Regions from separate parts of the Homo sapiens genome. Here regions 1, 2, 4 and 5 are each reported to be linked to region 3. The links are microRNA targets in miRTarBase. Many come from high-throughput screens and were not tested one by one. Region 3 holds a microRNA gene; each other region holds the end of a gene's coding sequence.
What was found. The annotated mature microRNA hsa-miR-1285-3p reads UCUGGGCAACAAAGUGAGACCU and lies in region 3 at 2,836-2,857, shown strand. An mRNA with a match to its seed (bases 2 to 7 or 8) in the 3' UTR can be bound and repressed. Matches are read on the target gene's strand: a 7mer-m8 pairs with bases 2 to 8, a 7mer-A1 pairs with bases 2 to 7 and ends in A, and an 8mer does both.

Region 1 (5,107 bases), not on the chromosome of region 3:
ATGGTATTTAGTAGATTTATAAGTTAAAGGAGAAAAATATGTTTCTCAAAAAACTGTGGAAAGGAGGCTGGGCTCGGTGGCTCACACTTGTAATCCCAGCACTTTGGGAGGCTGAGGCAGGTGGATCACCTGAGATCAGGAGTTCAAGACCTGCCTGGTCAACATGGCGAAACCCTATCTCCACTAAAAATACAAAAAATAAGCCGGGCGTGGTGGCGGGTGCCTGTCATCCCAGCTACTCAGGAGGCTGGGGCAAGAGAATCACTTGAACCCAGGAGGTAGAGGTTGCAGTGAGCCGAGATCGTGCCACTGCACTCCAGCCTGGGCTACAGAGTGGGACTCATTTAAAAAAAAAAATGTGGAAAGGTATGTGATATCCAATAGCCATTGCAGATTGAAAGATAAATATTTTTCTCTATTGCAGTCAGTTTAAGACTTACTGCCTCCATTCACTAATTTAAAAATATTTGAGGCTGAGCATGGTGGCTCACACCTGTAATCCCAGCACTTTGGGAGGCCGAGGAGGGCGGATCACGAGGTCAGGAGTTCGAGACCAGCCTGGACAACATGGTGAAACCCCGTCTCTACTAAAAATACAAAAAAATTAGCTGGTTGTGGTGGCGGGCACCTGTAATAGCAGCCACTTGGGAGGCTGAGGCAGGAGAATCGCTTGAACTCGGGAAGCGGAGGTTGCAGTGAGCCGAGATTGCACCACTGCCCTCCAGCCTGGGTGACAGCGTGAGACTCTGTCTCAAAAAAAAAAAAAAAAAAATTGAGAGCATATCATATTGCAGGCCTTGTTTCAGACTATGTAGAAGATGCAAAAACAAACTAAAATTGGTTTGTTCTCAAAAGGCTTGCAATTTCTAAAGATGGAAAACACATACACAGGTAGCTATAGTCAAAAGGAATATGTGAAAGTGTCAACGAACTGGTTTATAGTACTTTGTTCTACATTGCTATAGTGTTGCTGGAAAAGAGACTCCAAGAGCCAGTCCTTGGGTCTAGCACAGGGAAGAACTGGAGAGGAGTCACAGAGCACAGTGAAGGAAGAAAGTTTATTAGAACTACTCTGTTAGAGAGTAGTAAGTCCTCAGAAAGCAGGAGGAACACACTGTCCTTGGGTAGTGTCTCTACTTAGAAGAAACTGTAAGGAGCTATGATTAAACTTGGAATGTGCATATATGCTCACTAAAGGTCAAGGCTATTGGTGCTATAATGACCATTAATCCTTCAAACTAAGCCTACTCATTAATGTTATCTTTGAGTGAAGTGGGCTGCACTCAGGACATCTGGACATTCTGCAGGCTTAGTGGGAGATGTTCTGCATGACCATAATTTTTTTTTTTTTTTTTTTTTTTGAGACAGAGTCTCACTGTTGCTCAGGCTGGAATGCAGTGGCACCATCTTGGCTCACTGCAACTACCACCTCCCAGGTTCAAGCGATTTTCATGCCTCAGCCTCCTGAGTAGCTGGGATTACAGGCATGCGCCACCACACCCAGCTTTTTAAACTATTAATATTTTAGTAGAGACAGGGTTTTGCCATGTGAGCCAGGCTGGTCTCAAGCTCCTGGCCTCAAGCGATCCACATGCCTCAGCCTCACAAAGGGCTAGGATTACAGGTGTGAATATTTTGTAATTATAATACTTGTGGCTATTTTCAGACCTTAAGTATTAATATTATAACTGCCTTGTGAGAGCCTAGCTACTCACTTTAAGATGGGGTCACTCTAGTCATGTTTTCTTTTTTGTAGGGGGGTGGGGAGAGAGTCTTGCTCTGTCGCCCAGGCTGGAGTGTAGTGGTGCGATCTCGGCTCACTGCCACTTCAGCCTCCTGAGTTCAAGTGATTCTTGTGCCTCAGCCTCCTGAGCAGCTAGGATCACAGGTGTGTTCCACCACGCCTGAATGATTTTTTTGTATTTTAGTAGAGATGTGGATTTGCCATGTTGTCCAGGCTGGTCTTCAACTCCTGACCTCAAGTAATCCGCCTGTCTCAGCCTCCCAAAGTGCTGGGATTACAGGCGTCAGCTATTGTGCCCAGCCTCTAGTCATGTTTTATTAAACCAGAGGCCTGGTAAGCAGGGGTTCCTCTAACAATAGCACTTCTCACATTGCTATGAAATTATTTGTCCACTTGGCTATCTCCTTGATTAAATTGTGAACTGAGGGCAAAGATCATATCTTATTCATCTTTGTAACCTAGGAACCTAGACTAGTGGGCAGCCTATAGGAGGAGGGGCTTAATAACTGAAACAAACAAATGGATGAATACATGAAGAAAATGGCTAAACAATTTAGAGGGCAAAGATCATGTCTGGCTGGGTGATGAGGCAAGATGAAGTAATTTAACTTGAACCTTAAACGATTTAATGGTAAGAGTCTGACAAAGGGTATGTGTACAGAAGGTAGGAAATAGGGAAAAGAAATACAGAGTTGGAAGAGAGCTTAAAAGTCCAGTTTTAATATAATCTCCTGTTAAATGTAGGAATTTCATTTAAAATGGTGCTGATGAGTCATTAAATACCTCATAAAATACCCTATTCAGTTTCTTAGTCTGGTTTGGACAATCTGACCTAGTTTTGATTCTTCCATAAATGAATTCATTTCAAAATATTTATTGAAGATCATTTCATAAAATCACTTTGATTTAGGAAGTTTATTTTTTTCTATGACAGGTACTTTTTCCAGCATTTTCTGCTTATATAATTTAACAAGATTAAATACCTAAGTTTTGATATTGACCACACCTGTTAAACTACATATACGATTTTTAAAAAATTGTAGTAAATACACATAACATAAAATTTATCCTAATTCGTTATAAGTGTACAGTTCAGTGGCATTAAATACCTTCACATTGATGTGCTACCATCACTACCATCTATCTACAGAACTGTTTTTACACTTGAGATTTTTAATTTTTTTGAGATTTTTATTTATTTACATTTTTAGAGATAGGTGCTCACATCTATGTTGCCCAGGCCTGACTCAAACTCAGGCTTAAAAGGTCTCCCATCTCAGCCTCCTGAGTGGTTGGCACTACAGGTGAATGCCACTGTGCCTGGCTTACACTAACATTTTTAAACTTAAAAATATGAAATATTACTGTTCACAGAGAAATCAGATACATTTTTAATAATGCCATTTACATTCTAAATATGTTGACAAAATTCAGACCAGAACTTACAATTGGTGTATTAACTAAACTTTTGGGCTTGGTATTCAATAATGATTGTTTAAACCACTGGCCTCATAAGTCAAAAATCTAAGATCAGTGTAAAAATCGTATGCATTTTTATCTTAAAGAGAAATAATTCGAAGTACTAAAAGTTCAATTTTACAAACCTAGAAAAGAGATTTCTGACAGCATAGAAAACCAGACATTCTCCCTTCACTGGCTAACTCCTATGGGAAGAAAAATAGGTGGTAAGAACACACTTTAGGCTGGCGCAGTGGCTCATGCCTGTAATCCCAGCACTTTGGGAGGCCGAGGCGGGCGGATCACCTGAGGTCGGGAGTTCGAGACCAGCCTGACCAACATGGAGAAACCCTGTCTCTACTAAAAATACAAAATTAGCTGGGCATGGTGGCACATGCCTGTAATCCCAGCTACTTGGGAGGCTGAGGGAGGAGACTCGCTAGAACCTGGGAAGTGGAGGTTGCAGTGAGCCAAGATCGTGCCATTGCACTCCAGCCTGGGCAACAACAGCGAAACTCCATCAAAAAAAAAAAAAAGTATACTTTAGCTTACTCCATCCTCATCACAGTAGTGCTTATACTCTTCCTGTGGGAGCCACCCTTCCCAGTAGCAATGGTTTCAGTTCAGGTGGTGGTTCTATATAAAAGGGCAATGTAAGAAGTAGCAGTATTTTCCCAATATCCTGCCAGAACTCGGCTAATTGAAAAGCAGCACAAGGCTAGAATCAGAACCCAGGGTTTCAGGATCCAAGCCCAGTTTTATTTCTAAGAGAAATATTTCTCTACAATTACAATCTTCTATAACCCTATAAAACAGCTTCTTCAGTTCAGATTCTTCATCAGAACATTTCTATTTTTCAAATGCTGCCCCCTGCAGTTGATTCGATTTTGTAATGGATGGTTTTGAAGCTATTTCTGGAGCAAGTGTCGGAGCTTAGGAAACAGTTTTAATGCATTCTGTGTCGTCACTTCTATAACTTCTTCCACTGAGATCCCTTTCACCTGGGCAATATATTCTGCTGAAATAGAAATGTTCCAGGGCTCATTCCGTACCTGAAACAAGACAGCAGACACCATGTCAAACATGACACTGAAGGGAAGCAGATCCTTGGAGACTATAGATAGAAGAAAATGAGTTGGTAAAAACAACTGATGGGCTCCTTTTTAATTTTTTTCTTTTTAGGTGGGGATGAGGGCTGGGAGGGAGGTGTGGCTGCAATGTTGATTGTAAATCTGTGCTGCTCCTGAAAAGAACCCTGGGGTATTTACAATTGAAGTCCCTAGCTCCTAGCACATGAAGCAGTCTGCAAACAGTGAACACCTGGTAACCTGCCTGACTAATGGATTAATTGTCCTTTGGTTTGTTGCTTAGGTGAATGCTTGTAAAAGGTCACTGCTCTGCTGCTTGGCCGCCTACCTCACAGGCTACATGACAGTTTGATTCAAGAATTGCCAACATGTATTGGAAAGATGAAATAGATTATGTACTGGCATTTCACTGATTCTAAGATGCATTTCCTCTCCTATTTTAACATCTCTGAAATTGATACAGTATATTTCATTTAGATTCAGTGGTATTTCATAGTATAACTGGCAGTGTTTTTTCTTTCTTAATGGTCATAAAACAATGGTAAACAATGGTGCCTCTACAATCAGTAGCATTTAGATTTTATGAAATAAATTATTATTGTTACTATCAATAAGTATCTACTCAGGATGATAATGTTCAGAAGAATAACATTATTGTTAAAATTTTTAAAATGCACTTTGGTAATGTAGCCCAAAAAAATTAAAAATGGGCATAGAGATTTATGTTAATCATGTTGTTTATAATACAATCTAGATGACCAATAGCAAGTTAAATATGGTAAACTCACATACTGGAATATTATGCAGTTATTAAACA
Region 2 (5,107 bases), not on the chromosome of region 3:
TCACCCAGGATGGAGTGCAGTTGCGTGATCTCGGCTCACTGCAACCTCCACTTCCCAGGTTCAAGCGATTCTCCTGCCCCAGCCTCCCAAGTAGCTGGGACTACAGGTGCCCGCCACCATGCCCAGCTAATTTTATTATTTTTAGTAGAGACAGGGTTTCACCATATTGGCCTGGATGGTCTCGAACTCCTTACCTTGTGATCCGCCCGCCTCGGCCTCCCAAAGTGCCGGGATTACAGACATGAGCCACCACGCCTAGCCTTATTTATTTATTTTTGAGACAGAGTCTTGATGTATCACCCAGGCTGGAGTACAGTGGCAAGATCATGGCTCACTGCAACCTCCGCCTCCCAGGCTCAAGTGGTTCTCCTGCCTCAGCCTCCAAATAGCTGGGATTACAGGTGTGTGCTACTACGCCCAGCTAATTTTTATATTTTTAGTAGAGACGAGGTTTCACCATGTTAACTAGGCTGATCTCGAACTCCTGACCTCAGGTGATCTGTCCACCTCAGACTCCATAAGTGCTGAGATTACAGGCGTGAGCCACCACACCCGGCCACCCATAGCTTCTTAGTGGTCACTTGGCACAAACAAGGAAGCCTTGTCACTGCTTAGACAACTCAAGGCCACTTAAGGACAACCACCAAAATCAAAAAGAAAGGGTACCTCATGACTTTAGGGCTAGCTGTGTCCCATCAAAGTGGAAGGCCAGGTCCTGGCCTTAGCATAGGACCTTATCGGAGAGTAACGAGGGGAGAGGCTTCAGAGTGAAAAAACCAGCCAGGCATGGTGGCTCACACCTGTAATCCCAGCACTTTGGGAGGCCGAGGTGGGTGGATCACTTGAGGTCAGGAGTTCAAGACCAGCCTGGACAACATGGTGAAACCCTGTCTCTACTAAAAATACAAAAATTAGCCGAGCATGGGGGTGCACACCTACAATCCCAGCTACTTGGGAGGCTGAGGCACGAGAATCACTTGAACTCTGGAGGCAGAAGTTGCAGTGAGCCAAGATCACACCACTGCACTCCAGCCTGAGTAACAGAGCGAGACTCTGTCTTAAAAAAAAAAAAAAAACAACAACAAACAAAAGTGAGAAAACTGGGCCTGGTTCCAGCTCTGCCATGACTGGCTGATCAACCCCGGACAAACCACCACACCTGTCCCGGCCTCTGCTTCCTTATGCATCAACAGGAAGGTAATAATACCCATCACGCAGGGCAGTGGTGAGGCTCAGAAAGCATATTAGTAGACCACGTGGAAGAATTCTGCTTACCCCTGTTTTGAAGGAGCGATTAATCATGTATAGAAATTAGGTGTGAGTCTCAGGATGTTAGAGGCCAAGGTGGGTGATATTAAGATGTAATTCCATCATTGCTGCTGTGATAATCATCATCCTTGTATTCTTCCGATTTCCTCACCTCCTACTTTATTTAATGGTTTCAGCAAACCTGTGAGGAAGGTAAGGAAGGGCAAATAATAATGATGTCCATTTTAGAGAGGAAAGAAAGGCAAGAAGAGTTTAAATATACTGTCAAACGCTGCCTGGCTGGTTTGCATGACAGGGTTTTCTCTTCAACCTAGTTCAGGAGCTGAACGTCCCCATCTTCAGAATAGGTGCTAGTCAAGACCAGAGTCCTTCTATGGATGAACTGTAAGACAAAAAAAAAAAAAAAGAGAGAGAGAGAGACATGTATATTAGGAGACTAACAGACATTAAATAATGGGCATGAGGGTTCTTTCTGGGGGTGATGACAATATCCTAAAATTAGATTATGGTGATGGTTTTACAACTCTGTAAATATAGTAAAAAACATATATTTGTACACCTTAAGTGAATTTCATAGAATGTAAATTATATGTCAGTCAGGCACAGTGGCTCACGCCTGTAATCCCAGCACTTTGGGAGCCTGAGGTAGGCAGACTGCCTGAGCTCAGGAGTTTGAGACCAGCCTGGGCAACATGGCAAAACCCCATCTCTACTAAAAATGCAAAAATTAGCTGGGTGTGGTGGCTCACACCTGTAATCCCAGCTACTCAGGAGGCTGAGGATCACTTGAACCCGGGAGGCAGAGGTTGCAGTGAGCCAAGATTCATGCCACTTCACTTCAGCTTTGGTGACAATGTGAGAACCTGGCTCCAAAATAAAATAAATAAATAAATAAATAAATAATATTCCCAACAAAGCTGTTAAAGGACATACCATTTTTTTTAATGGGCAAGATGAAACTACTGTGGCTATGGATGCATATTTGAGTGATAAAACTCTAAAGAAATGCAAGGAAGTGTTTGGCGTGAATGTCAAGACTCCTTTCAGGCACAGGGAGGGTTTTGTGATTAGAATGGGGCACAGGAAGGCGCTTCTGGGGTGGGCAGCAGGTGCTATTTCTTGACCTGAATGATAGTTACAAGGGTATTTACCTTATAATAACTCATTAAGCACCACTTGTTTTGTGTAGTTTTCTGTATCTGTTTTCTTATATAATAAAATGGTTGTTAAAAATAGGGGAAATCAAGTATGAAATAACACCTGTGTCAGACATACTGTAGAGTGGCCCCCATTAGCCCCACTTCCTGGCATTCATGTCCTTCTGTAATCCCCTCCCCTTCAGTGTGGGTGGTAACGTGACTTGCTTCTAATCAATAGAAGGCAAAGGCAATGGGATGTACGTGATTACGTGTTTATGTGGTTATGCTATGTAAGATTTTGTGTCAGCCGGGTGCAGTGGCTCATGCCTGTAATCCCAGCACTTTGGGAGGCTGAGGCGGGAGAATCACGAAGTCAGGAGTTCGAGACCAGCTTGGCCAACATGGTGAAACCCCATCTCTACTAAAAATACAAAAAAAAAATTAGCCGGGCGTAGTGGCAGACATCTGTAATCCCAGCTACTCGGGAGGCTGAGGCAGGAGAATTGCTTGAAACTGGAAGGCGGCGGATGCAGTGAGCCCAGATCACACCACTGCACTCCAGCCTGGGCATCAAGAGTGAGACTCCGTCTCAAAAAAAAAAAAAAGATTTTGCGTCATCTGGCTAGGAGACCCTCTCCCTTATTGTCTTTGAGGAAACAAGCAGCTGTGTTGCAAAGGCCTATGGGGTAAGGAACTGAGGGCGGTCTCCAGCCAACAACCAGAAAGAAACTGAGGCCCTCAGTCCGGCAACTCAAGAACTGAAGGCTGCCAATGACCATGTAATTTGGAGGCAGATCCTTCCCCATTGGAGCCTCAGATGACCCTGTGTCCCCAGCTGACATGTTGATTGCAGCTTGTAAAACTCTGATGTAGGAGACTCAGCTAAGCTATGCTCTGACTCCTGACTCACAGAAACTGTGAAATAATATCTATGTGTTATTTTAAACCATTAAATTTGTGGCAATATTCTTACATAGCAACTGATAAGTAGCAAATTATGTTTAGAGATCCTCTGAGACTGCCCTCAGGTTCAGTGATTCACTAGAAGGACTCACAGAACTCAGCAAAGTGTTGCACTCATAGTTACAGTTTATTACAGTGAAAGGATACAGATTAAAATCAGCAATGAAGAAAGGCACATAAGGTAAGGTCCAAGAGAACTTCCAATTATCCTCTCCTGGCAGAGTCTTCAGGATAATGCTTAATTCTCCCAGCAATGATGTGTGGCTACAATGATGTGTGCACAGAGTATTACCAACCAGAGTAGCTCACCCATGCCTAGGTGTCCAGGGCTTTTACTAGGGATTGATCACATTGGCATGCTTCACTGCCCACATGGCTAACTTAGTCTCCTCAGCTTGACCTTGCAAGGTCAAGCTGATACTGCATGGCCCAAGGCCCACAGGTAAACAAAAACACTCTTATCAGGCAAGATATTCTAATGGCTTAGAGGTTATCTCCCAGGAGCCAGGCAGGGGCCTATTCTTTATTTGGAATGTCCAGGGTTCAAACATCCCAAGTTCATCCTGTATCACACAAAAGGATTAACTTCAAAAGTGGTATTCTTGGCCAGGTGTGGTGGCTCACACCTGTAATCCCAGCACCTTGGGAGGCTGAGGTGGGAGGACTGCTTGAGACCAGGAATTCGACACCAGCCTGGGCAACCTAGTGAGATCCCATCTCTATCGTAATTTTTCTAAAAAGTGGTATTCTTAAGTCAAGTTACTACCCTGATTGATGACAGGGAGAGAGACCAGGAAACCACTGTGTTGTAATCCCTTAGGAAACCTTACACCTTTACTTGCTTTATTATCAGGTAATTTCCAGGATGTAAGCCATACAGCCAGAAGGCAGGGTACAAAGGAGAGGAGGCAGAGATGGTACACTCATACAGAAGCTTCTCCTGATTGTCCACTGAATAGAAGGCAAGCTTTCCCTCCTCAAGGTTCAGCCAGATGCCCACCACCCCAGGTCTGTCTGAGCCAAGGACAGTTTCCTTGACCATGTGCCATGCAGAGAGCTGGCTAGTCCCCTTCCATTCCACACAACAAGAGTCCATAGTCCTTCCCAGGACCTGGTCGCGGCTCATCTCCCAGGAAGCCACCCCAACTGCCCAGTGGCTGCAATTCCTAGTGTCCACTTCCCAGTAATGCTTTCCAGAAGACAGGGCCTGGGAACATAAGACCTGGCTGGTAGAAAACCTCTCACAGCTCCAGCGATAGGGTTGTGGGCGGTGAGACACAGTCACTGTACGGGAATCCTTGGACACCTCCAGGCTGCAGGAAAGGCTCTTCAAGTTAAAGGTTGGATGGATGGCCCCTTTGGAAAAAAAAAAAGAACAATAAGAACATGGCCGGTCATCTTTTGATGGTCCATGCTAAGAAGTCTTCAAATAGCAACTTTGTATCTTTTGGTGTGATGTTTCACTCACACTAGCATTAAAATTGCTACATCACCCAACAGGAAGAAATGATAAATGTTTCAGATGATAGATATGCTAACTACCTTGATCGGATCACTATGCACCATATGTATTGAAACATCACTATGTATCCCATAAATATGTACACTTATTATATTTATTTATTTTTAAAATTTATTTAGAAAAGAAGCAGGATTTTGCCATGCTTCCTAGGCTGGTGTCGAACTCCTGAGCTCCAGCAATCCTGCCATCTCAGCCTCCCAAAGTGCTGCAATTA
Region 3 (5,107 bases):
TTAAACTAAATTAGTTGTAATTTTGTCTTTTGACAAACCTTTATCAGCCAGGAATCTACATGACAAACTTCATTAATGAGCCTTTTTCTATCGCGTATTTGCCTTCCCATAATTTGCCACCCCTAGAGACTCAAAATCATTTTCCTTCTCTTAACACTTCTCTTTTTTTTTCTTTCTTTCTTTTTTTTTTTTTTTTTGAGACGAAGTTTCGCTCTTGTTGCCCAGGCTGGAGTGCAATGGCGCAGTCTCACGGCAACGTCCGCCTCTCGGGTTCAAGCAATTCTCCTGCCTCAGCCTCCTGAGTAGCTGGGATTATAGGGAAGCGCCACCACACCCAGCTAATTTTGTATTTTTAGTAGAGATGGGGTTTCTCCGTGTTGGTTAGGCTGGTCTCGAACTCCCGACCTCAGGTGATCCGCCCACCTCGGCCTCCCAAAGTGCTGGAATTACAGGCGTGAGTCACTGTGCCCGGTTCTCTTAACACTTCTCTAAACATATACTGTTCTTTTTTGAAGATGCTGTATAATCCTGAATTCAAAGCTACCTCTTGGAGATTTGCTCATTTCCCTGGTCTCTCTTTTGAATACGTGACGTACATGTTTTTAAATTTCTGTTTTTCTTTTTTTCTTTCTTTCTTTTATTTATTTTGAGATGGCTTCGCTCTGTCACCCAGGCTGAAGTGCAATGGCACTATCACGGCTCACTGCAACCTCTCGCTCCTGGGCTCAAGCGATCCACCCACCTCAGCCACCAGAGTAGAGTACCTGGGACCACAGGCATCCACTACCATGCCCAGCTAATTTTTACATTTTTTGTAGAGATGGTTTTTTGCCATATTGCCCAGGCTGGTCTGGAACTCCTGGGCTCCCAAAGTGTTGGGATTACAGGCATGAGCCACCATGCCTGGTCCTGTTTGTTTTCTTCTTGTTAATCTGTCTTTTGTTACAGGGGTCTATCACAACCAAAACCTCGGAAGGGTAGAGGAAAACTCTTTTTTTCTCCCCAACATACCATACAATAGAACATTATGCATGCATTAAAAGGAAGCCAGGCACGGTGGCTCACGCCTGTAATCCCAGCACTCTGGGAGACCAAGGCAGGCAGAATATCTGAGGTCAGGAGTTCAAGACCAGCCTGGCCAACGTGGCAAAACTCTGCCTCTACTAAGAATACAAAAATTAGCTGGGCGTGGTGATGCATGCCTGTAATCCCACCTACTTGGGAGGTTGAGGCAGGAGAATCACTTGAACTTGGGAGGCCAAGGTTGCAGTGAGCTGAGATTGCACCACTGCACTCCAACCTGACAGGCTGATCTCAAAAAAAAAAAAAATTACAAAAAAAGAATGTTGGAGCTTGGCGCAGTGGCTCACACCTGTAATCCCAGCACTTTGGGAGGCTGAAGCAGGCAGATCACCTGAGGTCAGGAATTTGAGACCAGGCTGGTCAACATGGTGAAACCCTGTCTCTACTACTAAAAATATAAAAATCAGCCAGGCGTGGTAGCGCACACCTGTAATCCCAGCTACTCAGGAACGCTGAGACAGGACAATTGCTTGAACCCAGGAGGCAGAGGCTGCAGTGAGCCAAGATTACGCCACTGCACTCCAACCTGGGCGACAGAGTGAGACTCCGTCTCAAAAAAAAAAAAAATGGGTCTATAACTAATGTCCTAGTATTATCAGTTGAGAAAAGCTTGTGGTTGCATGATGGGTATAAAATGATCTCATGCCTCTTTTCCTTTCTCTGCCATCGTGGTGTGTTCTTGACTCCACCCTCACCATGTCTTCTCACAAGACTTTCAGGATTAAGTGATTCCTGCCCAAGAAACAAAAGCAAAATCGTCCCATTCCCCAGTGGATTCGGATGAAAACTGGAAATAAAATCAGGTACAACTCCAAAAGGAGACATTGGAGAAGAACCAAGCTGGGTCTATAAGGAATTGTACATGAGATGGCACACATATTTATGCTGTCTGAAGGTCACGATCACGTTACCATATCAAGCTGAAAATGTCACCCCTATCTGGAGAGTTCGACGTGTTTTCCTCTCCGAATCTGTTATGAACGCATTGGTTGGCTGGGTTCAGTAATAAATATGTGAGGCCTTTCATTTAAAAAAAAAAAGTCTCATTTCTGTAATTACAATACTTCACCCAAACAAACAAACAAAAATAACTAGTACATGAACATGAAGAACAATATAGATGAGAAGAAAATAGGTTGGATACAAAATAAAGTTAAACTTGGAGAAAGAGGCTGGGCTCAGTGGCTCACACCTGTAATCCCAGCACTTTGGGAGGCTAGGGCAGGCGGACGATTTGAGCCCAGGGTTCGAGACCAGCCTGAGCAAAATGGCGAAACCCCGTTTCTACGAAAAAATACAAAAAAATTAGCCTGGCATGGTGGTGTGCACCTGTAGTCCCAGCTACTCAGGAGGCTGAGGCAGGAGGATCACCTGAGCCTGGGAGGTAGAGGCTGAGGTGAGCAGTGATTGTGGTACTGCATTCCAGTCTGGGCACAGAGTGAGACTCTGCCCCCCAACCTCCAAAAAAAAAAAAAAAAAAAAAAAAGGTACATGTACCAGGATACAACTGCAACATTATTTGTAATACAATAGGTTTTTGAAAAGTAGTAACCTGAATATCCATCAATGCCAGTTATGGTAATTTATTCAATTTACCATTCAATACATTGGGGAACTTTCATTTTATGGACGATTTTGCAACTATTAAAAAACTATTAGGCCAGGACTGGGCGCAGTGGCTCACACCTGTAATTCCAGCATTTTGGGAGGCCGAGGCTGGTGCATCACTTGAGCCCAGCAATTTGAGACCAATCTGGGCAACAAAGTGAGACCTCCGTCTCTACAAAGAATACAAAAATTAGCTGGGCGTGGGCCGGGCATGGTGGCTCATGCCTGTAATCCCAGCACTTTGGGAGGCCGAGGCAGGCGGATGACCTGAGGTCAGGAATTCGAGACCAGCCTGGCCAATATGGTGAAACCCCATCTCTACTAAAAATACAAAAATTGGCCGGGTGTGGTGGCAGGCGCTTGTAATCCCAGCAACTCAGGAGGCTGAGGCAGGAGAATTGCTTGAACCCGGGAGGTGGAGGTTGCAGTGAGCTGAGATCGAGCCATTGCACTCCAGCCTGGGCAACAAGAGTGAAACTCTATCTCAAAAAAAAAAAAAAATTAGCCAGGCATGGTGGCACGTGCCTGTAGTCCCAGCTACTCAGGAGGCTAAGGTAGCAGGAACACCTGAGCCTGGAGGCAGAGGCTGCAGTGAGCTGACATCATTGCCACTGCACTCCAGCCTGGGCAACAGAGCGAGACCCTGTCTCAAAAAAAAAAAAAAAAAAAAAAGCCCGGCGCAGTGGCTCACACCTGTAATCCCAGCATTTTGGGAGGCCAAGGTGGGCGGATCACTTGAGGTTAGGAGTTTGAGACCAGACAGTCCAACATGGTGACACCCCATCTCTACTAAAAAATGCAAAAATTAGCGGGGCATGCTGGCCCACGCCTGTAATCTCAGCTACTAGGCGGGCTGAGGCAGGAAAATCGCTTGAACCTGGGAGGCAGAGGTTGCAGTGAGCTGAGATCAGGCGGGTGGATCATTTGAAGTCAGGAGTTTGAGACCAGCCTGGCCATCATGGTGAAATCCTGTCTCTACTAAAAATAAAAAAAAATTAGGCCGGGCATGGTGGCTCACGCCTGTAATCCCAGCACTTTGGGAGGCCGAGGCAGGCAGATCATCTGAGGTCAGGAATTCAAGACCAGCCTGACCAACACGGAGAAACCCCATCTCTACTAAAAATATAAAATTAGCCGGGCATGGTGGCACATGCCTGTAATCCCACCTACTCGGGAGGCTGAGGCAGGAGAATCGCTTGAACCCGGGAGGTGGAGGTGGCAGTGAGCCGAGATCATGCCATTGCACTCCAGCCTGGGCAACAAGAGCGAAACTCTGTCTCAAAAAAAAAAACTAGCCAGGTGTGGTGGCTCACACCTGTAATCCCAACTACTCTGGAGGCTGAGGCACAAGAAACGCTTGAGCCCAGGAGACAGAGTTCACAGTGAGCCAAGACACTGTCACTCTGGGTGACACTCTGTAAAAAAAAAACAAAAAACAAAAAAAAAAACCCTAAAAATCCCAAGTGTATACATGTGCATCTGTATAGAGTAAAATGTGGAATATTACAGATGAATCTATTAATATTACTTACCTCAAAAGGAGGAAGAAGATACATTTTTAATATTTTCCTTATGTATCCATTTCATTTCATTTGTAACACTAAGCACGTTGTACTTTTGTAACTTAAAAACTACTTTAAAAAAAGTACTTGTGCAATATCCATATAATGGAGTTTTATTTGGGAATAAAAAGGAATGAAGTACCGATACACGTTACAACATAGATGACCCTGAAAAGCATAATGTTAAGTGAAATAAGTCAGTTACAAGAAACCATATATTACATGCTTCCATTTATATGAAATGTCTAGAATAGGCAAATCTATAGGGGCAGAAAGACTAGTGGCTGGGACATGGAATGGGATGAGGGACAGGGAGTGTCTGCTAATTGCTACGGGTTTCCTTTTTGAGGTGAAGAAAATGTTATAAAATTGATTGTGGTGATTGTTGCACACACACCTCTGTGAATAAACTAAAAACCATTAAACTGAAAAACACTTTATATGGATGTCCCAAAAAGGTGTTTTTAAAACACCATCCCCATTAACATTTGTTTTATTCACCATCAAAAGACTAGTACTTGATATCTTTGAAAATAATCTGAAGAATGTGTCAGAGACTCTAAAGACAATTCCAAAAATGAAAAATCCAGAATGTATACAGTCTGAAGAAACTACTTTAAAGAGGACATCACGTTTTTGTTTTTTTGGTGTTTTGTTTTGTTTTTGAGGAGTCTTGCTCTGTGGCCCAGGGGCTCACTGCAACCTCCGACTCCCGGGTTCAAGTGATTCTCCTCCTACCTCAGCCTCCCGAGTAGCCGGGATTACAGACATGTGCCGCCACATCTGGCTAATTTTTGTATTTTAAAGTAGAGACGGGGTTTCTCCATGTTGGCCACGCTGGTCTTGAACTCCTG
Region 4 (5,107 bases), not on the chromosome of region 3:
GTCTCGATCTCTTGACCTCGTGATCCGCCCGCCTTGGCGTCCCAAAGTGCTGGGATTACAGGCATGAGCCACCGCGCCTGGCCTAATTTTTATATTTTTAGTAGAGACGGGGTTTCACCATTCTGGCCGGGCTGGTCTTAAACTCCTGACCTCGTGATCCGCCCATCTCAGCCTCCCAAAGTGCTGGGATTACAGGCGTGAGCCACCATGCCCGGCCTTGTTTTTTTTTTGTTGTTGTTTTTTGTTTTTGTTTTTTCTTTGAGATGGAGTTTCACTCTTCTTGCCCAGGCTGGAGTGCAATGGCACGATCTTGGCTCACTGCAACCTCTGCCTCCTGGGTTCAAGCGATTCTCTTGCCTCAGCCTCCCAAGTAGCTGGGATTACAGGCATGTACCACCACAGCCAGCTGATTTTGTACTGTTAGTACAGACAGGGTTTCACCATGTTGATCAGGCTGGTCTTGAACTCCTGACCTCAGGTGATCTACCCGCCTCGACCTCCCAAAGTGCTGGGATTACAGGCGTGAGCCACCACGGCCGTTGTTTTGTTTTTTGAGACAGAGTCTGGCTATTGTCGCCCAGGCTGGAGTGCAATGGTGCGATTTTGGCTCACTGCAACCTCCACCTCCTGGGTTCAAGTGATTCTCCTGCCTCAGCCTCCTGAGTAGCTGGGATTACAGGCGCCCATCACCACACCCAGCTAATTTTTGTATTTTTAGTAGAGACGCGTGTTTCGCCACATTGGCCAGGTTGATCTGGAACTCCTGACCTCAGGTAATCCACCTGCCTTGGCCTCTCAAAGTGTTGGGATTACAGCCGTGAGCCTCCGCACCCAGCCGAGATGGAGGTTTTTTTAATTTTTTTTGAGACGGAGTCTCACTCTGTCGCCCAGGATGGAGTGCAGTGGCACGATCTTGGTTCACTGAAAGCTCCGCCTCCCGGTTTCACGCCATTCTCCTGCCTCAGTCTCCTGAATAGCTGGGACTACAGGTGCCCGTCACCATGCCTGGCTAATTTTTTTTGTATTTTTAGTAGAGACGGGGTTTCACCGTTAGCCAGGATGGTCTTGATCTCCTGACCTCATGATCTGCCTGCCTCGGCCTCCCAAAGTGCTGGGATTACAGGCGTGAGCCACTGTAACTGGCCTGTTTTGTTTTTTTCATAGAGACAGTCTTGCCCAGGCTGGAGTGCAGTAGTGTGATCATTGCTCACTGTAGCCTTGACCTCCTGGCCTCAAGTGATCCTCCCACTTCAGCCTCCAGAGTAGCTGAGACTAAAGGTACACACCACCACACCCGGCCAATTTTTGCGTGCCTGTAGCTAGACTTCAGAATTGCTCATCTCAGCCTCCAGAGTAGCCGGGATAATAGGCATGCTCCACTAGGTCTTGTAGTGAATTTACTATTTTTTTATATTTACTACTATTTTTATTATGAAAGTACATGTATTACTGTTCAAGTTGCAAGCTACTATAAATCAGATCTGATATCTTGAATCCATTCTATTAAAACTTTTACCTAGAAAGAACTTGCAGAATATAAACAGTGACAAAGGAAACAATATATATATATATATATCTGGCCGGGCGCAGTGGCTCACACGTGTAATCTCAGTACTTCGGGAGGCCGAGGGGGGCGGATCACCTGAGGTCGGGAGGTGGAGACCAGCCTGACCAACATGGAGAAACTCGGTCTCTACTAAAAATACACAATTAGCCAGGCGTGGTGGTGCATGCCTGTAATCCCAGCTACTCAGGAGGCTGAGGCAGAAGAATCACTTGAACCCGGGAGGCGGAGGTTGCAGTGAGCCGAGATCACACCATTGCACTCCAGCCTGGGCACAAGAGCGAAACTCGGTCTCAAAATAAAAAAATGCTAAAAAAAAAAAAAAAAAAAAAAAAAAAAAAGATACAAAAATCAGCCTAGCGTGGTGGCGGGCACCTGTAGTCACAGGTACTCGGGAGGCTGAGGCAGGAGAATCGCTAGAACCCAGGAGGCAGAGGTTGCAGTGAGCTGAGATTGCACCACTGCACTCAAGCCTGGGCAACAAGAGCCCAGGAGTCTCTTGGAGCCCAGGAGTGAGATGGAGTCTCCCTGGCTCACTGCAACTTCCGCCACTGCAACCCCTGCCTCTTGGGTTCAAGCAATTCTCCTGCCTCAGCCTGCGGAGTAATTGGGACTACAGGCACGCGTCACCACGCCCAGCTAATTTTGTATTTTTAGTAGAGACGAGATTTCACCATGTTGGCCAGGCTGGTCTTGAACTCCTCACCTCAGGTGATCAGCCCATCTCGGCCTCCCAAAGTGCTGGGATTACAGGTGTGAGCCACCATGCCCAGCTGACAAAGGAAAACATTTAGTGAAGTGTAAATATAAAGTTTTTTAATCCAAGTCAAAAAAAATCTCCAAAGAATAAAATGTGAGGTGGGATGCAGTGGCTCACACTTGTAATTGCAGCCCTTTGAAGGCCACAGCAGGAGGATTCCAAGTCCAGCAGTTCAAAGTTACAGTGAGCTTCAGTGGTGTTACTGCACTCCAGCCTGTGTGACAGAGCAAGACTGCCTCAGAAAAGATAACATTCAAAAACAGCAGCGATTAGTGGTTAATATATAAGGATCATATATTGCCATAATATATAAAGACATAAATGGTGGGCCTAGGGGCTTGTCACACTAAAGCTGACTTGAAATTGACCATACTCAGGGATGTTATGGTGTAACTCTCTAAAACTAGAGATTTAATACATTTTTTTTCTTTCCCCCCAGAGTTTCACTGGTTGCCCAGGCTGGAGCACAATCGTGCGACCTCAGCTCACTGCAACCTCCATCTCCGGGGTTCAAGCAATTCTCCTGCCTCAGCCTCCCAAGTAGCTGGGATTACAGCATGCACCACCATGCCTGGCTAATTTTGTATAGTAGAGATGGGGTTTCAACATGTTGGACAGGCTGGTCTCACTCTCCTGACCTCAGATGATCCACCCACCTCAGCCTCCCAAAGTGCTGGGATTATAGGTGTGAGCCACCGTACCCAGGCGAGATTTAATACTTCTAAAACCAAGCCTGGTTCAGTCTAGACAGGGTACTGGTTCTCAGTCTTGGGTATACCTTGACATCTCCTGGGAGCTTCACAATTCTGATGTCTGAGTCCTATTCTGCAGTCTGACTTAATTGGTCTAGGGTATGGACCGGAAACATTTTCAAAAGCTCCAGGTTAGAACAACTCCTCTCTAGGTCTGGTACATTCCATAACTAGTCATGGAAGACACTAAGGGTAGTCCTTTTTGATACCAAGTGGAGCTTGTATTATACCCAACTTACAGGTAGAAACATTTATGGCTGAGTATTTGCAGATACAGATACATAAACACAAACCTTAATCTAAAAACCCTGTTTAGTCCACTTCCCTCCAAATTATTGTTCTAAACAAACACCCATTTTTCCAAAACGCTGGGTGTCACCTAAATAAACTCTTACACGTTTAGAAAGAAATGCTAACAACCTCCTACCTTAAGGCCAAGTCCCTTATTATCAGCGCTTTATGCCTGTTCAGTTGGCAAAAATTTACCACATTCTTCCATTCTCAAACTAGAGCTTGGAACATAAATTACACGATCATCCTGTTTGTCAAAACATTTTCATAGCAAAATACCTGTAGGTACCATCAACTTAATCATCTTCCACTATGACAGTAAACCTACATGGCAATTACTGTTGTTTTATAAATATTCAATTTACTCCAAATCTGTTAACTGCTAAAATGTACATACATAAACAAACTCACATCATTCCTCAAAATCCATGTGTGTGTCCAGGATCTAACTATATAGTCTATCTTAACTTCAATGCCTTTTTTTGGGGCGGGGGCGGGAACGGAATCTTGCTCCGTTGCCCAGGCTGGATGGAGTACAATGGTGCAATCTCGACTCGCTGCAAACTCCACCTCCCAGGTTCAAGCGATTCTCTCAGTAGCTGAGATTACAGGCGGTGCGCCACCACGCCCAGCTAATTTTTGTATTTTTAGAAAAGAGGAGGTTTCACCACGTTGGTCAGCCTGGTCTTGAACTCCTGACCTCATGATCTGCCTGCCTTGGCCTCCGAAAGTGTTGGGATTACAGGTGCCAGCTACCGCGCCCAGCCATTTGAATGCCTTCCTCACTCCAGGAGAAGCTACCATGTATAGCCAGTCATTGAGCAGTATCTACTATTATTTTTGGGACTCAAAACCCAAATAATACTTTTTGAGGCCAAAATTGTAAATACAGCAATTGGAAGATGCTGAAAGTCTGCAAACTCACAAAAAAGCAAGGATTGCTTTAAAAAAAAAATGCCCAGAGTTTCCATTTCAGAAAAGTGATGGTCAGGGTATGTCAAAAACACTGTAGAGGCCTGGGTGGGCAGATCACTTGAGATCAGGAGTTTGAGTCGTTTGGCAAACATGGTGAAACCCTGTCTCCACCAAAAATACAAAAACTAGCCAGGCATGACGGCAGGTGCCTGTAATCCCAGCTACTTAGGAGGCTGAGGCAGGAGAATCGCTTGAACCCTGGAAGTGAACAGGGAGACAAGCACTGCAAACAAATACTTTTTAATGGGTTTAGTTTTTTTTTTTATTTTTTACAAATATACTGGAGAATCATGCAATGCTGCCAGCATTGGATGCAATCCGGGGCCACAAGTCTGCACACTCCTTTGCTACTGGTCCTGTAATGGCAGAACCTGCATTAAAAAAATAAAATAAAATAAAATAAAAACATGTGGGGGACAGATTAAGACATCGTCAAACACAGAAGATCCTTGGCCTGTACTTCTAGACAATCCACCCAACCTCAGAGACCTAAGGAACAAGCTGGACTGATTTCCTACCTTTCATCTCGCCTTTATTGTTCACTATGACTCCTGCATTATCTTCAAAATAAAGAAACACGCCATCTTTTCTACGGTATGACTTTCGTTGTCGAATGACCACTGCTGGATGTACTGAGAGAAGAAAAAAGGACAGCAGTCATTAACCTGTCAAGTCGCAGTGCCACCACAAAAGCAGTTTCCAACTAGACAGAATGTACACTCAGCGTTTGAGACAGTGACAGTGTAAATATCAATCTTCAAGGTG
Region 5 (5,094 bases), not on the chromosome of region 3:
AGAAAAATGCAGATTAATCAGGATACCATTAAACATCTCTGTTTTTCCTTCCTTTCTTGTAGTTTATTTATGTGAATCAGTCCTTTGCTCCTTCCCCAGACCAAGAAGTTGGAACTCTCTATGAGGTAAAAAAAAAAAAAAAAAAAAAAAAAAAAGAAAGAAATTACTGCTTTTTTTTCTTAATCGAGTATGCACATCTGTATAATATGTATATTGTGTAGTATTGTTAATTCACATTTTTATTTCAAGAGATGGCATGCCATTCTTAATTTTCTGGGGTAGAAAAGATGACTTTCTTGTTCTGTTATCTAACATCTTGATCATAGAAAGATATTAATAAATTATACAATGATTGAAGAACCAAGGAATAAATTACATTTCAAAGTCATCTTCATGATTCTCATAAAGTAAGGCTTTTTCTTTATCTACATTTGATTTCTTCTACATTGTTCTTATAATCTGTTATCCAAATCTGCCTACAAGAAATTGAGAAAACAGCATAAGAATGACTGTTTAACATCTTACAGAGTCATTGTAATAGTTATTAGAGTACACATACTAGCACCACTACTAGAAAACAGCTAAAATTACATATATTGTGGTTGGACATGTAGAGAAAGGACAAGATTAAAATACATAAGCTCATTCATGCCTAAGATGCTTAAAGGACAGATTTTATTAAACACTTAGGATTATTAATATGTGTCTGATAGAAACAGGCATCCTTTGAAAGAGATAGCCTGTAACATAGGTAACTTAATATACGTGTGTGGATATTTATGATACATGTGGCATTTATCTTCTTAGTTTCATCTAAGAATAATAAAAGATTGAGTTTGATTTATTGCCTTTTTTTTTTGTAGTGTTTTGGCAGTGATGGTAAACTGGTTTTACATTACTGCAAGTCTCAGGCGTGGGGATGAACCACAAAGAAAATCAACTTGCTACTACATGAAATGGATTTTCACGGAAGAGACAGCTCTGAAAAGTTTTGATGCTTGTGGCAAGAGACTTAACAGATGTGATCTATTTAGTATGTGTCTACTCTATGTTTATGCATAAGAAAACATCCATAGCATGAATGGACTCAGAAAAATGTGATTTGTATTAATGCACCAGTCATCATAAAAGATGGTCATGATAGTACACCCATTGCTCCTACTTGTTACTATTATTGCTGCAGATCTGCCTCCAAGGTTGAAAAGGAGACTAAGACTGTATAAACATCTTCATTGTCAGTTCTCAAAATGACTGAAATTGTTTTCATGGTAAAAGTTAATATACTAAAGGGTTCCTTTTTTTTTAATGTTTACATTTATCTCTATGTTTACCTTTTTAGTCACATTGACCTGCTGGCTGAATACCTCAAATAGTCCAGTAGAGGGCAGTCCACCAGGCAGAAAAGGTTAGGCGTTTTGGTTTCACATCTTTGCTGGGGAATAATAGGGGAAATGGCTGTTTTTGCTAATTTTTAGCTAATATCTAGCCAGGAGAGCAAGCACATAGGACAGACTGAAAGACTGTAATTTTACACAATACACATGGCTTAATTATTTTATTGGGATACAGAAAAATATAAATTCTGGACAAATAAGTCATATACCTGTTTTCAGTCCTAACATTTAAGGATTCTTGAGTCCCAATCACATAACTGTGGTGTTACTCTGTCATTTATATGGTGTCAAAAGCACTTGATGAGTAAACCCAGTAGCATCTTTTTGAGTGTTTCATAATGCATTTTCCAACTTGAAAACAATAATTGAAAAATAGCCTTATTGTATATTTTATGCCATGACTAAAAGTGCCATTTTTACTGATGCTATTAGACTGATAATTTCTTGAAGTGAAATTTAACCTTTTTTTCTCTTTAGTATTATGTTTATAATGCCATATTTTTAGAAAGCATTCCAGATCAGGCATGGTGGCTTACACCTGTAATCCCAGCACTTTGGAAGGCTGAGGTGTGGGGATTGCGTGAAGCCACAAGTTTGAGACCAGCCTGGTTAGCAAGGCAAGATCCCCAACTCTACAAAAAAATAAAAATTAAAAAAAAATTATTAGGCTGCAGAGGCAAGAGGATCCCCTGAGCCCAGAAGTTCAAGGGTATAGTGAGTCGTGATTGTACCACTGCATTCCTGCTGAGCAACAGAGTGAGACCCCATCTCAAAAAAGAAAAAAAAAGGCATTCTAGTAAATCGAATGTAATGTGAATGGAATTTCAAAACAGGATCTAAGATGGTATGTAGTAGAATTCAAAGTAATATCATTTTAAAGTTAAATGAGTATGGAAAAGGTCTGTTCTCTAGTTTTGTCCAGTTCAGTTTACTGAAGGAATATATTTAATTATATTCATATATTTAACAAATAAAAATATGTTGAATTTTCGTATTGTTTGCCACTGAGGGTTCAGATGATAGACCTCAAAAAATCGAAAATACTGGTTGAAATTTGTAGCATCCATTTAGTTATTCTTTTTGACCTAAATAACTTAATAGTTTATTAAATCTAAGGTTAGCTAAATATGTAGCTAACCTTATTTGTTTTCTTTCCTAACAACTCTGAAGAATACATAGGACTTTGCACTTTTTTTTTTTTTTTTTTTTTTTAAAGAGACAGCGTTTCGGTCTTGTTGCCCAGGCTGGACTGTAATGGCACAATCTTGGCTCATTGCAACCTCTACCTCCCGGGTTCAAGTGATTCTCCTGCCTCAGCCTCCTGAGTAGCTGGGATTACAGGCACCTGCCACCACACCCGCCTAATTTTTTGTTATTTTTAGTGGAGACAGGGTTTTACCATTTTGGCCAGGCTGGTCTCAAACTCCTGACTGACCTCAGGTGATCCACCCGCCTTGGCCTCCCAAAGTGCTGGGATTATAGGTGTGAGCCACCGTGCCGGGCCTGGACTTTGTACTTTTTCAAATCATATTTAATTATTTCTTGATCTTTACTCAAAGAATTATTCTGCGCTAAATTTGCAACATTAAACAATAATTAAGCCTGGATCCGATAAGTTATTGGGTGACTAGAACCTACAACACAATTTATTTTTAATTTAAACTCTCAAGTCTGATTAAACTTGGGGGAAAAACTGAACATTCAGGTGATATTTTAAATTTTCTTTGTGACTAAATAGATGTCATTAATATCATGCTTCATCTTACTGTGCATAGATGACCCATGGCACACAAAGTATATGTATAATATTGCAATATTGTACTTCCATCTTTAAAAGTATGCCAAAGACTTCATAATGAATTCACCATATTTAAGGAATAAGGCAAATTAATGTTTATCCGAAATCAAAATGAGATTGGATAATTCCTGGAATCTGATTTCTGTAAGTTTCAGTCCTAAAGGGACCTTAAATATCTACTAGAACGAAGTACAGTGTATTTCTCAGATTACATGACATTAGTCAACCAATTTAGTTGTAACACAAAGTGAGAAAGCCTTAGGTGTTGAAGGAGTGTGAAAATAAAAATCTCTTTTCATGCAGTTTCTGCTTCATTTTCCAAGGATTATAATATGCTGAGTAAACTTTTGGCACTAAGGAAGCCAGCTACAGGCCACGTAATGAAAACTATTCAGAAAACAGTTCAGCAAATACTACTATTTGAATACAGTTCAAATCGTATTTATATAAATACTCTGCCTACATTATTTAACCCAAACTGGATTATTCACCATTCTTTGAAGATGCCTTGTGTTTTCTGTTATCTACTTCTGCTCGTGCAGTTTACTTACACCTTCACCCTTTCAAATCCTAACTCTTCTTCAAGGCCTGATTCAGATTTTAACTTTTTAAAGGCTATCTGAATCATTCAAGGAGAAGATACCCTTTCTCTCATAAAAACACTTAGAGCAAACTACCACTATTAAATCACTTATTGCATACTGCCTCAGAGCCATGTGTCCAGTTATTCTGGTTTTTATCTGGTACCCACACACACATAATACTTAGTACATTTCCTTATATGTAAATAATTAGTAATGTAACACATCGAGTGAATGAAATTGTGATTAGCAAAGTATGACAGCTAAAAACAAAGGAAATTTTGTATAGTTTAAGTTTTTGTACAGCAGAAGGTAATGGAAAATATTTGCAACATATGACAGTGTTTTTAATGTCTTAAGTATATGAAGAATTTGTTTCAATTGGTAAGAAAAGACCAACTGAAAAATAGGCAAAACATACCAAATTTCGATTCACAAAAAGATACAAATGGCCAACAAAACATGAAACACCTTGAACCCCATTGGTTACAAAAAATACAAATAAAAACAATGCTGACTGACAATAAAAATAATGTACATCTTGCTATTAGCAGAGTTGTGGGGAAATCCTGTCATATTTTGGTGAATAGAATATGAGTTGGTATATCACTTTTAGGGGGCCATTTGGCAATATCAAAAACCTTGAAACGTAAGTATAAACTTCAGTTTGTTCGTATAACCTGTCATTCACATATTGAGTGCCTACTATGTCCTAAATATTGGAATAACACTAATAAAGCTCATAAGAGACTAATAAAGTCCCTGTTCTTGGAGTCACTTTCATGTTGACTCAAGGGGGTAGGACAGATTTTCAGATTTGAATTTAAATCTCGGAAGTTTTTAAAATAGAATTTTTAGAAATAATGGAAAGTAATTTGATACCTGATACTAGCTACTATACCCATGTTTTCGTATTTAATATTAATGAAAGATAAAACGTGAGTAAAATCTTTAGAGGAATCCTTATAAATCAATTCCCATAGTTCCTTCTGTCATAGCTGATACACATGAATCTAGGTTGATTACTTCTAGTGATAGACAAAAAGGATGTCCTGTCCATTTTGAGATGGCTCTATTTGTTTCATAACTGCCTTTCTTACAACATGGCAAAATCTGCCTCCTTGCTTCCTCCAAGTATTTGTTCCCAGTTCTTTTATCTACATCTACAAAACATACCTTTCCCCCTTTCCTGCCCCACTTTTCCCAAGTCTTGTCTTAAGAATGATAAATCCATCCCTATAGTTGCTTAGAATCTTGACTCTCTTCCAACCCAGTTTCAATCCATCAGCTTTACTACCCAAAGCAATCTACAGATTCAATG

Region 1: miRTarBase lists TATDN3 as a target of hsa-miR-1285-3p. Seed matches in the 3' UTR shown: 7mer-m8 at 3,699-3,705 and 7mer-m8 at 3,581-3,587.
Region 2: the mRNA of RNF135 is a reported target of hsa-miR-1285-3p. Seed matches in the 3' UTR shown: 7mer-m8 at 4,065-4,071.
Region 4: miRTarBase lists RPL23 as a target of hsa-miR-1285-3p. The part of its 3' UTR that is shown has no 7-base or 8-base seed match.
Region 5: the mRNA of ATG12 is a reported target of hsa-miR-1285-3p. Seed matches in the 3' UTR shown: 7mer-A1 at 2,088-2,094 and 7mer-m8 at 2,631-2,637.

Annotation. Positions count from the first base shown.
Region 1 is chr1:212,814,160-212,819,266 of GRCh38, reverse strand. It overlaps TATDN3 (TatD DNase domain containing 3), which reads right to left. Exons shown (of 10, transcript NM_001042552.3): 10 at 2,437-4,254. The coding sequence ends at 4,111. Among named protein-coding and RNA genes, the nearest start is that of TATDN3, 25 kb to the right of the region's middle.
Region 2 is chr17:30,998,282-31,003,388 of GRCh38, reverse strand. RNF135 (ring finger protein 135) reads right to left here. Exons shown (of 5, transcript NM_032322.4): 5 at 3,478-4,727. The coding sequence ends at 4,198. Among named protein-coding and RNA genes, the nearest start is that of RNF135, 30 kb to the right of the region's middle.
Region 3 is chr2:70,250,683-70,255,789 of GRCh38, reverse strand. MIR1285-2 (microRNA 1285-2) reads left to right here and starts at 2,785; the gene lies at 2,785-2,872. It also overlaps the pseudogene RPL39P15.
Region 4 is chr17:38,845,502-38,850,608 of GRCh38, forward strand. RPL23 (ribosomal protein L23) reads right to left here. Exons shown (of 5, transcript NM_000978.4): 4 at 4,861-4,974; 5 at 2,359-4,713. The coding sequence ends at 4,631. LOC124903994 (a long non-coding RNA gene) reads left to right here. Exons shown (of 3, transcript XR_007065743.1): 3 at 2,764-2,789. Among named protein-coding and RNA genes, the nearest start is that of SNORA21B, 3.6 kb to the right of the region's middle.
Region 5 is chr5:115,827,633-115,832,726 of GRCh38, reverse strand. ATG12 (autophagy related 12) reads left to right here. Exons shown (of 4, transcript NM_004707.4): 3 at 63-125; 4 at 864-4,527. The coding sequence ends at 923. LOC124901049 (a long non-coding RNA gene) reads right to left here. Exons shown (of 2, transcript XR_007058908.1): 2 at 1-476. Among named protein-coding and RNA genes, the nearest start is that of ATG12, 11 kb to the left of the region's middle.